2 separate regions of the Homo sapiens genome follow, and region 1 is linked to region 2. Evidence: fine-mapped expression QTL. A gene starts in region 2. The other region holds a variant in brackets. All regions are shown on one strand. Distances are between the middles of the regions. Region 1 overlaps LYRM4 (LYR motif containing 4). Region 2 holds the start of LYRM4 (LYR motif containing 4).

Region 1 (8,335 bases), 120 kb before region 2:
AGGATATTAACGAGTAATGCTGAGCAAAGAAAATCACAAGCCAACCACCTCTTGGATCACATAAGTGGAACTTACCTTTGTGAAGCACCATGGGGAGCCGTAAACCCCTTGCCCAGTTTCTTTTGAGTTTACTCAGATTTAGCCAGAAAAGGAAGCTGGCTGAAGCAAAAGAGAACTAGAACTCCCATCTCCGTTTAACCTATTTGCAACTCTGCCAAGGCTGCAGAGCCAGCAGCAGCTGTGGCCTATCAGTGCTCATGAGAAGTGAGTCTTGCAAGGAAATGACATTTCCTTCCCAGGGTAGGGAAGCACGCACTGCTGAGATTCTACGGGTATGACGGCAGCACCAGCCACTGCAGGACAAAGATGACTAGAGAAGGTTCGCCCGCCTCCCCAAGGAATCAGGACTGGTTACTTTGTCTCTTTTTGTTACTGTTGTTGTGTTGGGCAGGGTGTGTGTGCTGGGCAGCCTGAGGGCCACTTGTCCCCGTGCTGCCATCTCACGGGTGAGGCTATGGGTGGCACTGTTTTACACATCTATATGGTAGCTAGAAACAGAGGGCTCTTTCCTCTCACATAAAAGCAAAATCAAGATGATCGATCGTTTTCTTCTTAGGTTTTCCTAAATTTTATTTTCTAAAAAAGGAGAGAACATTTTTTGTGACTGTAGGCAGCAGATTCCTGACAGCGTCTGCTGTCTGACAGGAGTGCAAAAGACATAGTTATCCTTTAGAATACAGAAGCAAACTTGCACGGGCTTAAATCTAGCACGCCACCACCACCTGTGAGGAAGGCTCCAAAGACACGATCCTGACCCGTCCAGCCTCTGTCAATGATTCCAAACCTTGCGTGTACACTGGCATCCCTTGGAGGGCTTTAGAATATTCTGATGCTCGGGTCACACTTAAGAGATTATTAATTACTTGGTCTGGGGTGTTTTTATACATCAGAATTATAAAAAATTGTGGTAAAGTTCACATAACATAAAATCATTTAAACCACTTCAAAGTGCGTAATTCAGTGGTATTAAGTACCTTCATAACTGTACAATCATCAACACTATTTAGTTCTGGAAATTTTCATCACCCCCAAAAGGAAACCCCATACTCATTAAGCAGCCCCTCCCTGTTTTCTTATTTTCCCAGCCTCTGGCAACCACTAATCTATGTTCTGTTTCTATGGGTTTCCGTAGACATGCAGATGAAATCATATAATATGTGGCTTTTGTGTCAGGCTTCTTTCATTTACCGCAGTGTTTTCAAGGTTCATCCAGGTTGTAAACACGCATGAGTACTTTGTGACTTCTAAGGATGAATAATATTCCATTGCGTGGAAATACCACATATTGTTGACCCTTTCCTCAGCTGAAGGATATTTGGGTTGTTTCCATCTTTTGGCTATTGAAAATAGTGCTGCTGTGAACATACGAATACAAGACTGTGTCTGAACCTGTTTCCATTCTTTTGGAGTGAAATTGCTGGGTCATATGGTAATTCTATGTTTAACTTATTGAGGAAGTGACAAGCTGCTTTCCACACATGTCAGGATTTTACAAGCTTCCCAGGTGAGTGTAATGTCTGGCCAAGGCTAAGAACCTAGTTGGTTAAGATAGAGCTTTCAGTTTTTATGTAAGATAAGCAAGAAAACCAAGATAAAATCAGCAAAATCCAGACAAAAGAACTGACTTCTTCAGCAAATAAATTATAAGGAAAAAGAAGAGCAAGGAAGAAAAAAAGATACAGATGGGGCCTATAGATTTCTTTTAAAGACAGATTACAGACAGATCACCCAGTTTGAAGATTGGTGATATTTGTGAGACATTAAAATTTAAACACTTTGTATTTGATGATATTAAGGAATTAGCATTATTTTGTTAGTTATGATAACGGTATCATAGCTATGTTTTAAAAAGAATCATCTTTTCAGATATGTACCAAAATAGTTTAATATGAAAACGAATACACAGTTTCTCAAAACAATACGGGAGAGCATGGGTAGGCGTAAGGATGAAAAATACCATCTATTGATATTACAGAGTATCTAACTCTTAAAGATGGGTGATGGATACACAGGACTCATTTGACAATTCTACATACTTTTGTATATTTTCACATTTTTCCATAATAACAGGTTAAACAGCAAAAAGTCTTCGTCATTGCAACTAACAAATTGGGGAAAATGTCATCAAATGTCTATTTAAGAGATCTCATCCCTATTCCTTCTCCTTCCTCTCCCTTGGTAACGGCACTCCTAGGGCTGTGGAGGGTGCGGTTCACTCCTGGGACTGTGGAGGGTGCGGATCACTCCCGGGACTGTGGAGGGTGCGGATCGCTCCCGGGGCTGTGGAGGGTGCGGATCGCTCCCGGGGCTGTGGAGGGTGCGGATCGCTCCCGGGGCTGTGGAGGGTGCGGATCGCTCCCGGGACTGTGGAGGGTGCGGTTCACTCCCGGGACTGTGGAGGGTGCGGATCGCTCCCGGGACTGTGGAGGGTGCGGATCGCTCCCGGGGCTGTGGAGGGTGCGGTTCTCTCCCGGGGCTGTGGAGGGTGCGGTTCACTCCCGGGGCTGTGGAGGGTGCGGTTCACTCCCGGGGCTGTGGAGGGTGCGGTTCACTCCCGGGACTGTGGAGGGTGCGGATCGCTCCTGGGGCTGTGGAGGGTGCGGTTCACTCCCGGGACTGTGGAGGGTGCGGATCGCTCCCGGGACTGTGGAGGGTGCGGATCGCTCCCGGGGCTGTGGAGGGTGCGGTTCTCTCCCGGGGCTGTGGAGGGTGCGGTTCACTCCCGGGGCTGTGGAGGGTGCGGTTCACTCCCGGGACTGTGGAGGGTGCGGATCGCTCCTGGGGCTGTGGAGGGTGCGGTTCACTCCCGGGACTGTGGAGGGTGCGGATCGCTCCTGGGGCTGTGGAGGGTGCGGATCGCTCCAGGTGTGATTTTCATGGGAATGGAACTGGCTCCCTAGGTGGTGTTCATTTCCTCTGGATGCCTCAGGCCTGTCTCCTCCAAAGACGAGAACTTTCTTTTAAGTTTTCCTGCTAAATATACTCAAAAAAGCTTTCTAGCTCTAGACTTTCAAACACACACAATACTGATGTGTATGTGTGTGTGTTAAATACACAAAACACAACATTTATCATTTTATTCATTTTAAGTGTACAGCTCTGTGGCATTAAGTACATTCACATTGTTGTACAACCATCAACAGCATCCTTCTCCAGAATCTTTTCATTTTCCTCCACTGAAACCCTGTAGCCATTAAACACTAACTCTCCATTCTCCCTCCCCTCCAGTCCTTGGCAACCGCAATTCTACTTTCCGTCTGTAGGGGGACTCTAGGGACCGCCGTAAGTGGAATCATACAGCATTTGTTTCTTCTATGGCTTATTTCACTTAGGACAATGTCGTCAAGGTTCACCCTTGCTGTGGCGTGTGGCGGAATTTCCTTCCTCTTTAGGGCTGAGTAACATTCCATTGTACGGCTGTACCACATTTTGTTCATCCAGGCGTCTGTTGAGGGACACTGGGTTGCTGTTGTGAATAATACTGCTCTGAACACTGGTGGGCAAGTATCCTTTTGAGTCCCTGCTTTCAGTTCTCTGGGGTATATACTGAGAAATGGAATCACTAGATCATTTGGTCATTCTATTCAATACTTTTAAAACCAAATCAGTATTCTTCTAAATGATAACTTGTCCCCTTTCCTGCTGCCTTTTTGACTGGGGCTGGGTTGAGGGTGGAGAAGCGGGAAGACACGATAATGTAGTACTTAAGAGCCTGGGGTTTGTCCCAAGACAAACCTGGTTTAAACACCTGCTCTGCCAATCACTGGCTCCGAAACCTTGGGTTTCACCTAACCCTGTAGTCTCAGTTTCCTTACCTACAGAATGGGATAATGTCAATTTTACATAAGTTAGATGGTATTTATAATGTCTTACTACAATGCCTGGCACACAGCTTTCAATTAATGGCTTCTAGTAATCGATTACTTCCATTTCAACAATCCCAGGTGTTGTCAAAGAAGGTGGCATTTACAAATGAGTCCCACAGGTCCTAGCCACAGTCTGTGGTAATGACATGCTAAACCGCCCCAAGGAGCAGCGCCTGTAGGAAGACTGGGTAGACTTCCTTCCTTTCCTGTGGCAGAGGGCTCCGCACAGAAGAAACTCTGGTCTCTTCCTGATGTCTCTTAACAGCTTTATGGAGATATAATTCATACACCATCAAATCTATCCAATTAAAGTGTACAATTCAATGGTTTTTAGTATATTCACAGTTGTGCATCCATTACCACAATCAATTTTAGAGCATTTTCATTACCCCCAAGGAAACACTACTCATTAGTCGCCTTTCAAATGTCCCATCCTCTCTAGCCCCTGGCAACCGCTAACCCACTTTCTGTCTCGATGCATTTGCCTATTTTGGCCATTTCACAGAAACGAAATCACACAATGCGTGACTTTTTGTGTCTGGCTTCTTTCCCGTAGCATAATGTTCTCAAGGGCCATCCGTGTTCTAGCATGTATCAGTACTTGGTTCCGTTTTACCACCAATAATATTTTTATTGTATGGCTATACCACATGTTGCTCATCCATTTATTATCTGATGGCCATCTGGGTTGTTTCCACTTTTTGGCTATTGCTAATAAGGTTTCAATAAATATTTGCATATAAGTCTTTGTGTGGACACGTTTTCATTTCTCTTGAGTATACATGTAGGGGTGGGATTGCTGGATCACACTACCTCTTCTTTTTAAGCCCCAACATAGAATGGTTGCTTCTAGGACCTGTCAAGAGATTCTCAGACAAGCAAAAACCAAGCTCCTGGAG[T/C]TGGCCCCACTCCTCCACTTAGTGAGAAGCTTACAAAGGTGTTCAGATTTGTACTCTGTAATCTCACTGCATTGATACTGAACATCTTCTTTGAGCTCAGTTCCTCCTCACAGAGGAACTCTAGTGTCCTTTAAATAATGACTCTGCTACCCGGCTAGTGATATGCCTCTATCTGTATTTAAGATCATTTCCCCTGAATGATGGAGATTTTAATATTCTGCATCTAATGTCCTGTGACTCTATCTGAATAATTAAAACCACCCAGTTGATTGTTGCCCTATTCTCAAAGACAGGATTCCTGCTCTTTTGTAGACATCTCCACTCAGGTCACACACTGGAGTAAGAGTTGACAGGCTTTGTCCTTGCAAGCTGCCTGTGGCCCACCACCCAAATTATCCTCATGTGAATGTATTTTTGAGGGAGGATATGGAGCATTCATCCTGCCATTTTTGCAAACCACAATAGCCAAGTCTTCTCACCCCTTTCCACTGTGTTACTCAGAGGCCTGAGGTGGTGCAGAGTTCACTTTGCCTTTGGTCAAAACGTACTGGGGAAGGTGGTGGCTCCACAAGTTGCAAAGAAAAATACAATGGTGCTGTCTTTCAGCAGGTCAAAAAGGATTCTATAAAGACTAATGGTAGACAAGGGGCACTGAGGAGGATTCATGAAAGTAAATTTCATGATGACAAAAGAAGACATTTCTGCCAAGATTTTATATATAGAAGATATTCAAAGGCCAGGTGTGGTAGTGCACACCTGTAATCCCAGCACTTTGGGAGGCCAAGATGGGCAGACTGCTTGAGCCTAGGAGTTTGAGACCAGCCTGGGCAACATGACAAAACCCTGTCTCTACAAACAATACAGAAACTAACTGGGCATGGTGGCACACGCCTGTAGTCCCAACTACTCGGGAGGCTGAGGTGGGAGGATCACCTGAGGCTGGGGAGGTTGAGGCTGCGGAGAGCCGTAATCATGCCAACTGTACTTCAGCCTGGGCCAACAGAGTGAGACCCTGTCTCCAAAAAAAAAAAAAAAAAAAAAAAAAAAAAAATCGATAGTTTTTCTTACTTAAAGAATTTTTATCAGTAGCCAGTAAGAATAATGACTGTTTTTTTTATGAATGATTTCCAGACTAAGTCACAAGAAAACCTTATATACTATGACATCTGTATATTAAGGAATTCTAACATGCTCCCCACTGAAAACACAAGAAAATATCAAGATGCAATAGAAAACAAACCTGGTGGCAGACAATGACTATGGACTTTATGCCTGGGGGTAAAAAGAGAAAAAAATAAAAGTTAAGAGTAACAGTTAACAGAAAGAAAGAGTTCTTTGGGATTTCAAACAGAAGCAAGTGCTAGAGGTGTTTAAGACAGGTTAAAAGCTAGAAATGAGATTAATCCTTTAGACATAGACATTTTGCTCTTCACAATCAGGTTAATACTTTGAAGTCTTAAAGAAAGTCTTTCGAGCAATCAGAGGACTTCAAAGTGATTGTTGCACATAAGCCTAAGAGAATTTGATCTCAAAAGAAGAGTAATATTGATGTTCGTTGAGTACCTACTATGTTCTAGGCACTTATGCTAGGTACTTTGTAGATGTAATTGAATGTCGTCCTTGTTAACACTCTCTGGAAATAGGTTTTGACATCTCTGCGGTAGGGAGAAGAAGACAGGCCTGGAGAGCATAAGTAGCTTGTTCTGAATGACAATAGCTGGTGAGCGGCAGGGCAAAGCAGGCCTGCCAGCCCAGTGCCTCTGATCTTCCCAGGCACCGCTGCATTTCCACCTCGCTAACTGGAGAAATACCAGCAACTCTGGAAACATGGTGAGCATATCATATCCAGAACTCTGACCAACGAAGGCGCAGGCTTCATTCAAAGTTAGGCAACAGAATATTAAGGTTCATTCATGACACAGGTCACACTGTATTTACAAATACAAACTGGAGTAGGACAATGAGGAGTATCAGATAAAAGTTAATGTTTGGCTCGATTTAAAACAGTAGCACTTGACTGGTTTTCGACACTTTTGCTATGATTGTGTTTAATATTAACAAGATATTGTTAAATTAAGTTTGGCCTAAAGCTGCCTCTTTACATATTTTAAAGGTTTCTGTGTATGCAGTGAACTGTAACCTAACTGGATGTGTACACAGACTATAATCTACTCTTGTGCTGATCACTGAGCTTTGGCTATAGGCAGCCAATTGTTCAAACTGTGCTCAAATAAGGCAAACAACTGAACTGTCGCCAATCTGGCTGTTTTAGCACCTCATTTCCATTTTCCGTACATCACTTTCCTTTTTTTGCCTATAATTTTTCTTCCAGGCTGGGGCGTGGTGGGTCATGCCTGTGACCCCAGCACTTTTTTCTTTTTTTTTTTTGAGACAGGGTCTTGCTCTGTTGCCCAGGCTGGGGGGCAGTGGTGTGATCACGGCTCACTGCAGCTTTGGCCTCCCAGGCTGAAGCGATCCTCCCACGTAAGCCTCCCAAGCAGCTGGGACAAGCACACCACCAATTCCCAGGCTGAGGCAGGTGGATCACTCGTGCCCAGGAGTTCGAGACCAGCCTGGAAAACATGGTGAGACCCTGTCCTCCCCAAAATACAAAAATTAGTGGGGCATGGTGCTGTGCCTGTCCCAGCTACTTGGGAGGCTTAGGTGGGAAGATCACTTAAGCCTGGGAGTCCCAGGCTGCAGTGAGCCGTGATCGCACCACTGCCTCCCAGCCTGGGCAACAGAGCGAGACCCTGTCTCAAAAGAAAAAAAAACCTTTCACCACGTGACTGTGCTGGAACCTCTGTGAGCCTATTCTGGTTCACAGGCTGCCTGATTTGCAAAGTGTTATTTGCTCAGTTAAACTTGGTTAAATTTACTTTGTCTAAGGTTTGTCTTTTAACAATACTTAAAAAAAAATAAAGCTTAACTAAAATTTGAAAAGATTGAAAAAATCTGTTTGGAGGAAGGAACATTTAAACCTGTATAATGAGTATTTCCAAAGTACATAAGGCTGTGGCGTTGAAGGACACCAACACAAAGGTTTAGACAAACTATGATGTGCTCTCTGTACTTTACAAGTAGAAAGTACTTAAGTGCATTACAGGTATGCACAGTGTGTGGCTGAGGATCCCGTTTCTGGAACCTGGAGTTGGGCTCGGGAAAGTCAATTTGTGCTTCAACTTGATCTGCACTTGGGAACATGTAAGGCTTATCATTTCCTAGATTCTTAACCATTCAACAAAAGCATGTTAAAAATGTAACATACATGCTGAAAAATGGTTAAGAAGGTAAACTTTATGTTACGTATATTTTGCCACTATGAAAAATAAAAGAGGTAACACGAACTGAAACCAAAACGTAGACTTTCCTTTTTCCTAGACTGTGAGCAGTACTGCCTTCCTTATGCCACTTCCACCTCCTAAATAACCAACCAAATGGATTTAAAAGCCTTCCAACTTGTTGTTCAGGTGTCCAGTTCTACAAGTATTCAAGCATTGTTTCTCTCTG
Region 2 (8,335 bases):
CCTAATCTCTACTCTGCACTGTTGTAATCAACTCCCATTTGATGTCCTTGGCCCCTCAAAATCATCTTCTACACTGCTGCCAGAGTGATCTATCAGAAAATGCAAATCTGGTCATGTCAGGTTAGTGGCTGCCTGTGAGCTAAGGGTAAAGTCCAGGGTCCTCAGCACGGCCCCCAGGCCCTCAAATCAGTGGCCCTCTCCAACCTCAGTGCCTTCCTGTCACCGCCCCCCCAACCCCATCATACTTACCTCCCTGGCAGTGCTGTGCTGTTTGCCTGCCTGACCACACCAAGCTGCTTCATGCCTTTGATCCAACATCACCCCTTGGGAGGCCTTCTAGATTCCACACCTTGTACATCCTTCTGTCACAGCACTTAACCCAGTCTGTGACAACTATCTCTGTACCTGTGTCCCACATAGGCCTGTAAAGCCATTGATAACAGGTGCCTAGCTTAGTTCAAAAATCTCATCTTTCTCTCTCCAGGGCTTGGTATAGCAGGGGTCCCCAACCCATCAGTACTGGTCCGTGGCCTGTTAGGAACCGGGCCACACAGCAGTTGAGCGGTGGGTGAGTGCGCATTATGGCCTGAGCTCCATCTCCTGTCAGATCAGCGGCGGCATTAGATTCTCATAGGTGCACCTATTGTGAACTGTGCATGTGAGTGATCTAGGTTGCATGCTCCTTATGAGAATCTAATGCCTGATGATCTGAGGTGGAAGAGTTTCATCCCGAAACCATCCCCTCCCTTGACCCGGTCCATGGAAAAACTGTCTTCCATGAAATTGGTTCCTGGTGCCAAGAAGGTTGGGGATAGCTGTGATATAGCACTGGGCAAAGCATGCTTCAGAGATGTTTTGTAGAAGCACTGAGGTAAAAGAATGACACACAGCAATGAGACCTGTTTGGCTGGTGGGAGGGATGGGAGTGGAAGCTGTGGGATGAAGAGAGTTGGGAAAACTTTTGTTCAGAGAAGGTGACAATTGAGCTCAATCTTGAAGGAAGAGGGGGCACTCTAGACAGGAGTGATAAAGGGCCTGCTGGATAGAACAGTACTTGTAAAGGCCTGGAGGCCCAACAGGACGTGGCACATTTAGGAAACTGCAACTGATGATGACAGAGGACAGGATGCACATGTGGGACTTAGGCTGAGACTGGAGGAGCAGACAGGGCTCCTGCTATCAAAACGTGGCCTATATTATAGGTCTTGCAAGAGAGTTCCAAAGTATTTATTTCACTACTCTAATTACTTAAGGCACAATTCGCAGGTCATTAAAAAACGTTTACTAGTCTGCTTTTGATTGCTTATTCAGCACTACCTGTGTTAGTTTTGATAGGTAACTTAAGCTCCCTGTGCCTCAGTTGCCTTACAGGGTAATACAAATAGTACCTACCTCACAAGATTATTGTCAAAACAAATGTGTTAATAGACATGAAGAACATAAGATAGCAGTGGCACACAGAATTGATAGTGGATGTTGTGTTGCTATTGATTTGCCATCAGTGACAAACAGCTGCAGAGATTAGAGAGGAGGGAAGGGACTTTTCCTGAAATTCACAAGACACAGCCTTAATGTAAAAGGACGTATTTTTATAACAAGTAAGTTTATCTAGGGAGGTAATAGCAGGAATGTCGGTTTTTAGGTCTATGATCTCAGGTAACAGTATAAAATGATTATCAGATTCCTTTGGATAATATATTTATATTTGGATAGTAAATTTAGCTTAAAAGTATATGCTTAAGGTATAATTTGATCAATTATTTTCTGAATGCATATGATCTTACAGTTGCCCATACTGAAACCCATTTTCAATTTTCTGCCTTTCAGGTAGAGTCTTGAATGATTTTCCTAAAGTTTGAATGATTTTCCTGTTGAGTTTCGTGAATGATTTTCCTGTTCAGTTGGCAATTACTCATTTGAAAACGCTTGGGCCTCATTTGCTCATAAATCATTTCCAAAGAGAATTTCAGAAATGGAAGGGTCCTTAGAGATTGTCTAGTCCAACAGTCTATTTCATAAACAAGAAAACTGAAATACAGAGATTGAGAGACTTGTCCAAGTTAGTCTTCGAGGGCTCCACCTTGACTTTCTTACATGCTCTCACATAAACCCTCTCCCTGCCACTTTCCTTAGTGTGTGAACTGCCTGCTGATTCCAAGTCCTTGTGTATCCTGAGTAAGCTTTAATGACAAACTATTTTACTCCAGACTATGGTGAAATCAAATGGTTTCTATTTATTTAACTTGCATATTTCATGTGTTTCCTCAACAGACTTGGTTAAGTACTTGGTGCTAGGTGTTTGGTTAATTCTTGCTAAAATTCCACCAGTATGCTTATTATTACACTCTTTATTCTCCAAAGTCAAAGTCATTAAGTAAAATCATTCTCTCCCGTGAAATTTAACCACTTAACTGGGTGGATACAACCTCAGTGGTATGACCCAGATGCTGTTTTCAAATTTGCAGCATGAGTATATTTTCCAGGCGGGTTTCTAAAAATTTGAGAGTCATTGCTTAAGAGGCTTAGCGTTCCTGTCCTCTGACAGAGGTTGTACTGGGCAGACCCATCTCAGGGCCTGCCAGCTCACACACGTGCTGGAGGGGGGCCTACCTAACCAGGTGTGTTCCAAGGGTAGGCTCTGCTCTTATGACATCCAATCCACAGTCTGGCCAGTCACCTAAGTGAGGCTTGAGGTAAAGAGATGAGTTGATCCAACCAGATTCTTTCTCATGGGAATATGGCTCAAACTCAGAGAGAGACAGGTAGTTAGTAAAAACAAAACAAAACAAAAAACAAATCTAAAAAAAAATGCAGAGAGAGAATCCATAAGAAAATGATGGGTCAGAACCAGCAACACTGTGAAAGCAGAGGCTCTGAATTAGAAAAAACATACAAAGAGTAACAATAAAAGACTCATAGGCAAATAGGGGAGTGGGGAGGCGTGAGAAAAAGTGAATGTGTTATATTAAAGATGTGAGTTTAGGCCCTCAATATCCTGCTGTCAAGGTCCAGTAAGCGGGATCTCTGTCTGGTGAGCCAGGAGAAACTGAGGTTTCAGCTCCAAAGCTTGTGAGACCCTTTTTCCTTTTCCGCTACGCATTTCCACCATACCCTAAATAGAATGGATTCTTGCAACCAAAAGAACTCATTACGACACCTAGGAAATTTTAGGGAGGTGCTAGAGTGTGCCTTCAGCTTTGTCGCAGTGTACTACTCACTGGCCACTTCCACTCTCAACTCTTCCAGTGCTCAAGGGAAGTTTTACATATGCAACACACTGGCCTTAACTTCACAAATGACTGATTTCCATCCCTTTTTTCTCTTCTGCAGAAACATAACACTAATCATGCTCCTAGAATAACTACCAAGATAGCCTTTAGGGGGAAAACGTCACAAGACATGAACGTCTCCCCTGGTAGAAAGAAAGGCTCCTCCCCGAGGTCTCAGAGGCCACACCTGTAGGCAGGAGCACGCTTTTCGATGGCGGAGCCCGGTCCTTGCCTCGCAGCCGCCGGCAAACCACGGTGGCTCCCAGTCCCCGGGGATATTCCGCGTCAGCCCGCACCCCCGGTCCCCGGCCCCTGGCCCCCCGCCCCCGGCCCCCGGTGCCCGCTGGGTCACCTGTAATTGTAGGCGCTGAAACGCTTGCTCTCTCTCAGCATCGCCCGGTACAGAGATAACACTTGTGCGCGACTGGAGGCTGCCATTTTGGAAAGAAAAAAAAATAAACGGGTCCTCTTCGCCGAGGTCCCAAGTACGACCCAACCCACGAAACTCCAGCCTGTGCGGAAACCACGAACGAAATAAAATGCTGCGGCTCGGCTTTGCCAGCGGGCCGGGCCTAAGCCTAAGCGGGCAGCCCTGCGGATCGCGGACGGCGCCAGGCGTCCCGCGCCGCTTCGGGGGCGGGCGCAGGCAGGGCTCGGGGCAGCTAAGGGGGCGGTGCTGGGAGGGAGATGCCTCCGCCCCGCCCCGATCCCGCCCCCGCCCGGAGGCTCGGGACCCAGCAGCCGCTCCACGCGGCGGGAGGGCGGGGAAATAAGAGGACTGGCCGCCCGTGCATCCAGCCAAGCTCCTGGCGGACGGATATCGGAGGCCCAGGCATTCGAGGGACGTGCAGTTGCATCACGGAGAGCCTTTGGGAACCGTCTGGGGTCTTGGCGGAGACATTTGTGTTTCGGGGGCAGCGCCCCTTCCTACATCCAGGAGGCCGCGTTGCCCGGGTTACCGAAGGCCGCCGCACCGACGCCCCGCCCCTGACCGCCGATGCCCCTCCCACGCCGGCTGCGGTCGCCCTCGGCGCTGCCTGAGAGAGTTTGCGGGATTTCAAGGGTGACTTGATTTCGCCTGATCCTGGTCGGCAGGGTGGGGTTTCTTGGCATTCCTCAGGCCGGGGGATGCGACGTCTGGGTGTGGAGGTGATGAGCTAGGGGTTCTGTGGCACTCCGGCTCTGCTCAGGGCGACCTGCGTAGGGGCCTCTGGGGCAGGCCCGCTTTCTGTCAAAATGGCAGCGCCCAGCGTGCGCGGGTATCTCTGAAGTTGGGGTTTAAGATTCTTGCCCGTGAGAGCGAACGAGCCTGCCGTACTTCTGATTTTGAAACACCTGGGTCTGGGCTTCCCGGGCGAGCGGTGGGTGAGTGCCGGCCTCATTGCAGCCTGGGGTACGACGTGGGCGGTTGGTGTTGTAGGGGGTTTACATTGGCCGTGGATTTTTTCCTCTTTCCGGATGTGTTTTTGCTTTTGAGTGAAGAGTTCCCGTGGTTTTGTAACCTAATAAATGCATAAAATGCAGCTTGGGTTGTAGACTTTGGAGAATAATTAGAGACCTTTAGGGCTTTAGGCTTTCTCCAAGAAGCGGAGCAAGTTTTCAACCATGGCTTTCTTCAGAAGACTGCAGCTTTTTTGAATCATCTTATTAAAGTGGTGGATAAAGTTGCTTGTTCTGATCTTTGAGCATGGCACTGGACGCAGGAAGCTTCAGCCAGTCCTAGTTACTGTGTTTGCAAAGCACTTTTCTTGTTTTTGGAATCTTGCTTTATGTAATCAACCTTAGGAAGAACCACACCTTTCTGCACTCAAGCACAGCGAGAAGTACGTTATGCGTGAAAACAAAACAACTTTGCATTAAAATCCATCTTTCTCCGAACCACTTGGTCACGGTTGTGTTCTCATCTGCTTTAGTGTATTTGGTTTTGAAACGATATACCTGCTGTATGTCTAAACAACTTTATATTTTCAGGAACTTTTCTGTTTCCTTTTCTTTTTTTTGAGATGGAGTCTCGCTCTGTCGCCCAGGCTGGAGTGCAGTGGCGGGATCTCGGGCTCACTGCAACCTATGCCTCCCAGGTTCAAGCCATTCTCCTGCCTCAGCCTCCTGAGTGGCTGGGATTACAGGCGCGCGCTACCTCGCCCAGCTAATTTTTGTATTTTTAGTAGAGACAGGGTTTCACCATGTTGGTCAGGCTGGTCTCGAACTCCTGACCTCAGGCAATCCGCCCGCCTCGGCCTCCCAAAATGCTGGGATTACAGGTGTGAGTCATCACGCCCAGCCTCTATTTTCAGGAACTTTAAAGGCAGAAAAAACACTTCTCTGACCTTACCATTCTTTAGTGTACTTGCAACCTGGTGTCCTTGCATCCAGATATTCTTACTAATCCTGATGCAATGACATTTTTTAAAAGGCACTGAAGAGAAAATACTTTTATTAAGATATCTTTAAGTCTCCTCCCTGATTTCTTGAAAATCTCATGTCTGTTATTGTTTATTATTATTTTTTAAACAGGATAGCAAAACTTCTATTACTTCCTGGTTGGTCAGGTCATTGAGCAAATCTAGCCTCTGCTTTATTGAAAGGACTTTTTTGAGTTTTCCCTTTGCTATTTCTTAAAGGATCCAAGACCAAGGCAATTGCACATTGTTATAGAGTAAGATTCAGAGCTGATTTCTCTTGATACACTATTGTGTGCCAGTGATATGAAATGATATGCGGCACCTCAAAGCTACAACATTAATGCAAGTTACTGATAGAGAATGCTATCAGAGTGAAAAGGAAAAACTTGAAGATTATTTTGGCTTTTTTAAAAATAGCAAAGATTACATTATTTTATTATATTTTGCTTTTGAGAGTAAAGTTGGAATAATTACTATATACAATTGTTTCTACCTAATTATCAAGGAATTTAATCATTAACGTACATAATTAATGTATCTAAATTACTCAACTTTGTTGTAATCAAATAAAACTTTTCCAAATAAATATGTATAGTTTAAATAGTTTGGGTAGCTTAGTCCTCTGTTAGTACGAGCAATGGTTGCAGTTAGGAAAGTGATAGGCTTCCCAGTTAATTCTGAGCCAAGTCTTCATAAAAATACCTTATTATTTTATTTAAAATGGTTTACCAATGTGTTGGACATCATTGCCTGGAGAGGCTAAAAGAAAATAATCATTCCGTAGCTACATCTCACTTTTGCACATCTTCATTGCGGAGATGACTTAAAAAAAATAACTCGATTTGAGATTGTAAGTAGATTTGGGCCAGAAGCTGAAGAATGGACCTTACACATACGTCCTTTAATAGTCATTCTATTCTGGGTTGAAATTTTTCTTAGAGAGTATCTGTAAAACAGGAGGTACCATTTAGGCATCAAAACGTAAAAATTTCTTTAGTATTCATTTATCAAAAGTTATCGACTACCTGTAGTTCTTTATGGAAGATCATGTGTTACCTTCTATTAAAATTAGGGTTGTTAATGACCACTTAATGCTTTGTGAAGAGAAATTTCTCTAATCATAATAAACAGTGTAACAACAATTTACTGTCCTTAAGCTTAAATATCAAAATGATGTATAAAGTAAAATTTGTATAGTAGTAGTAACTTACGATATTATTTAGAAATTGTTCAGCTGGGCATGGTGGCTCACACCTGTAATCCCAGCACTTTGGGAGGTTGAGGCAGGTGGATTGCTTGAGCCCAGGAGTTTGAGACCAGCCTGGGCAACATGGCAAAACCCCATCTATACAAAAAATACATCATAGCGAAACCTCACCTCTACACAAAAAATACAAAAATTAACTGGGTGTGGTGGCATGTGCCTGTAGTCCCAGCTACTTGGGAGGCTGAGGTGGGAGGATTGCTTGAGCCCTGGAGGTTGAGGCTGCATTGAGCCATGATCACATTACTGCTCTGTAGCCTGGGCAACAGAGTGAGACCCTGTCTACCAAAAAGAAAAAACAACAACAACAACAAAAAGAAATTATTCTATTCTACACCACACATGAATCCAAGTATTATACATTGATCCTTCATTTTAATAGAACACGAAGGGGAAGGGGGAAGACCTTAGATATCAACTCATTCATTTGTACAGATGAACAAACTGAAGACTTTTTCCTCATTCGTTCATTCCTTCAGCATTTATTGAACACTTCCTAAGTACTATAGGTTATGGTTTTTCTTTTCTTTTTTCTTTTTTTTTTTTTTTGAGACAGAGTTTCACTCTTGTTTCTCAGGCTGGAGTGCAATGGTGCAATCTCGTCCGGCTAATTTTTTGTATTTTTAGTAGAGATGGAGTTTCACCATGTTGTCCAGGCTTTTCTTGAACTCCTGACCTCAGGTGATCCAGCTGCCTTGGCCTCCCAAAGTGTGGGGATTACAGGCGTGAGCCACCGCGCCCGGCCCATAAGTACCATATATTATATAAGATGATATAGTCACAGTGATGAGAGCTTCCCCACCCCTAAGAAACTTGTAGGTGACTAGATAAGCGAAACAATAATTTATTTTATAGAGACAGGGTCTCTGTTTACTAAGCTGGAGTGCAGTAGTGCTATCATATCTCGTTGTAACTTCAAACTCCCGTGCTGAAGTGATTTTCCTGCCTCAGCCTCCTGAGTAGCTAGGCCTATAGGCTCATGCCACCATGCCTGGCAGATTTTTAAGTGTTTTTTTTTTTTTTTGTAGAGATGAGATTTCACTATGATGTCCAGGGTGGTCTCAAACTCCTCAGTGCCTCTCCTGTCTTGGCTTCCCAAAGAGCTCAGATTATAGCTGTGAGTCGTGGCACTTGGCCAATAATTTCTTTTTGACAGTTGCTGCGATATGAGTAATATTAGTAAACGCTAAAGGAATAGGGAAGAGGAATATTGAACCAGGAGTTTCACCTATGGGAAGGCTTTCCATCGTAGAAGGTGTTTCCAGAATGAGAAGTAAAAGCCAGATGAGGAATGTGGTTAAAGATTGCAGTGTATATCCAAGCATGGAGGAAGAAGGGTGCTTGATCTATTTAGAGAACTCTTAAGTGTTTTAGAATGGTAGGAGGTGGGAAGGGAGGGA

Evidence for each region.
Region 1: its variant is fine-mapped to the expression of LYRM4 in prefrontal cortex (ROSMAP, PIP 0.95).

The regions. Positions count from the first base shown.
Region 1 is chr6:5,132,643-5,140,977 of GRCh38, forward strand. All of the region lies in intron 2 of LYRM4 (LYR motif containing 4), which reads right to left. All of the region lies in intron 3 of LYRM4-AS1 (LYRM4 antisense RNA 1), which reads left to right. Among named protein-coding and RNA genes, the nearest start is that of MIR3691, 12 kb to the right of the region's middle. RefSeq lists a silencer at 6,913-7,207. The variant T/C (reference allele first, on the strand shown) is at 4,826.
Region 2 is chr6:5,257,027-5,265,361 of GRCh38, forward strand. It overlaps LYRM4 (LYR motif containing 4), which reads right to left and starts at 3,924. Exons shown (of 3, transcript NM_020408.6): 1 at 3,622-3,924. The coding sequence starts at 3,707. FARS2 (phenylalanyl-tRNA synthetase 2, mitochondrial) reads left to right here and starts at 4,487. Exons shown (of 7, transcript NM_006567.5): 1 at 4,487-4,634. RefSeq lists an enhancer at 3,155-3,204 and silencers at 3,415-3,724, 3,785-4,004.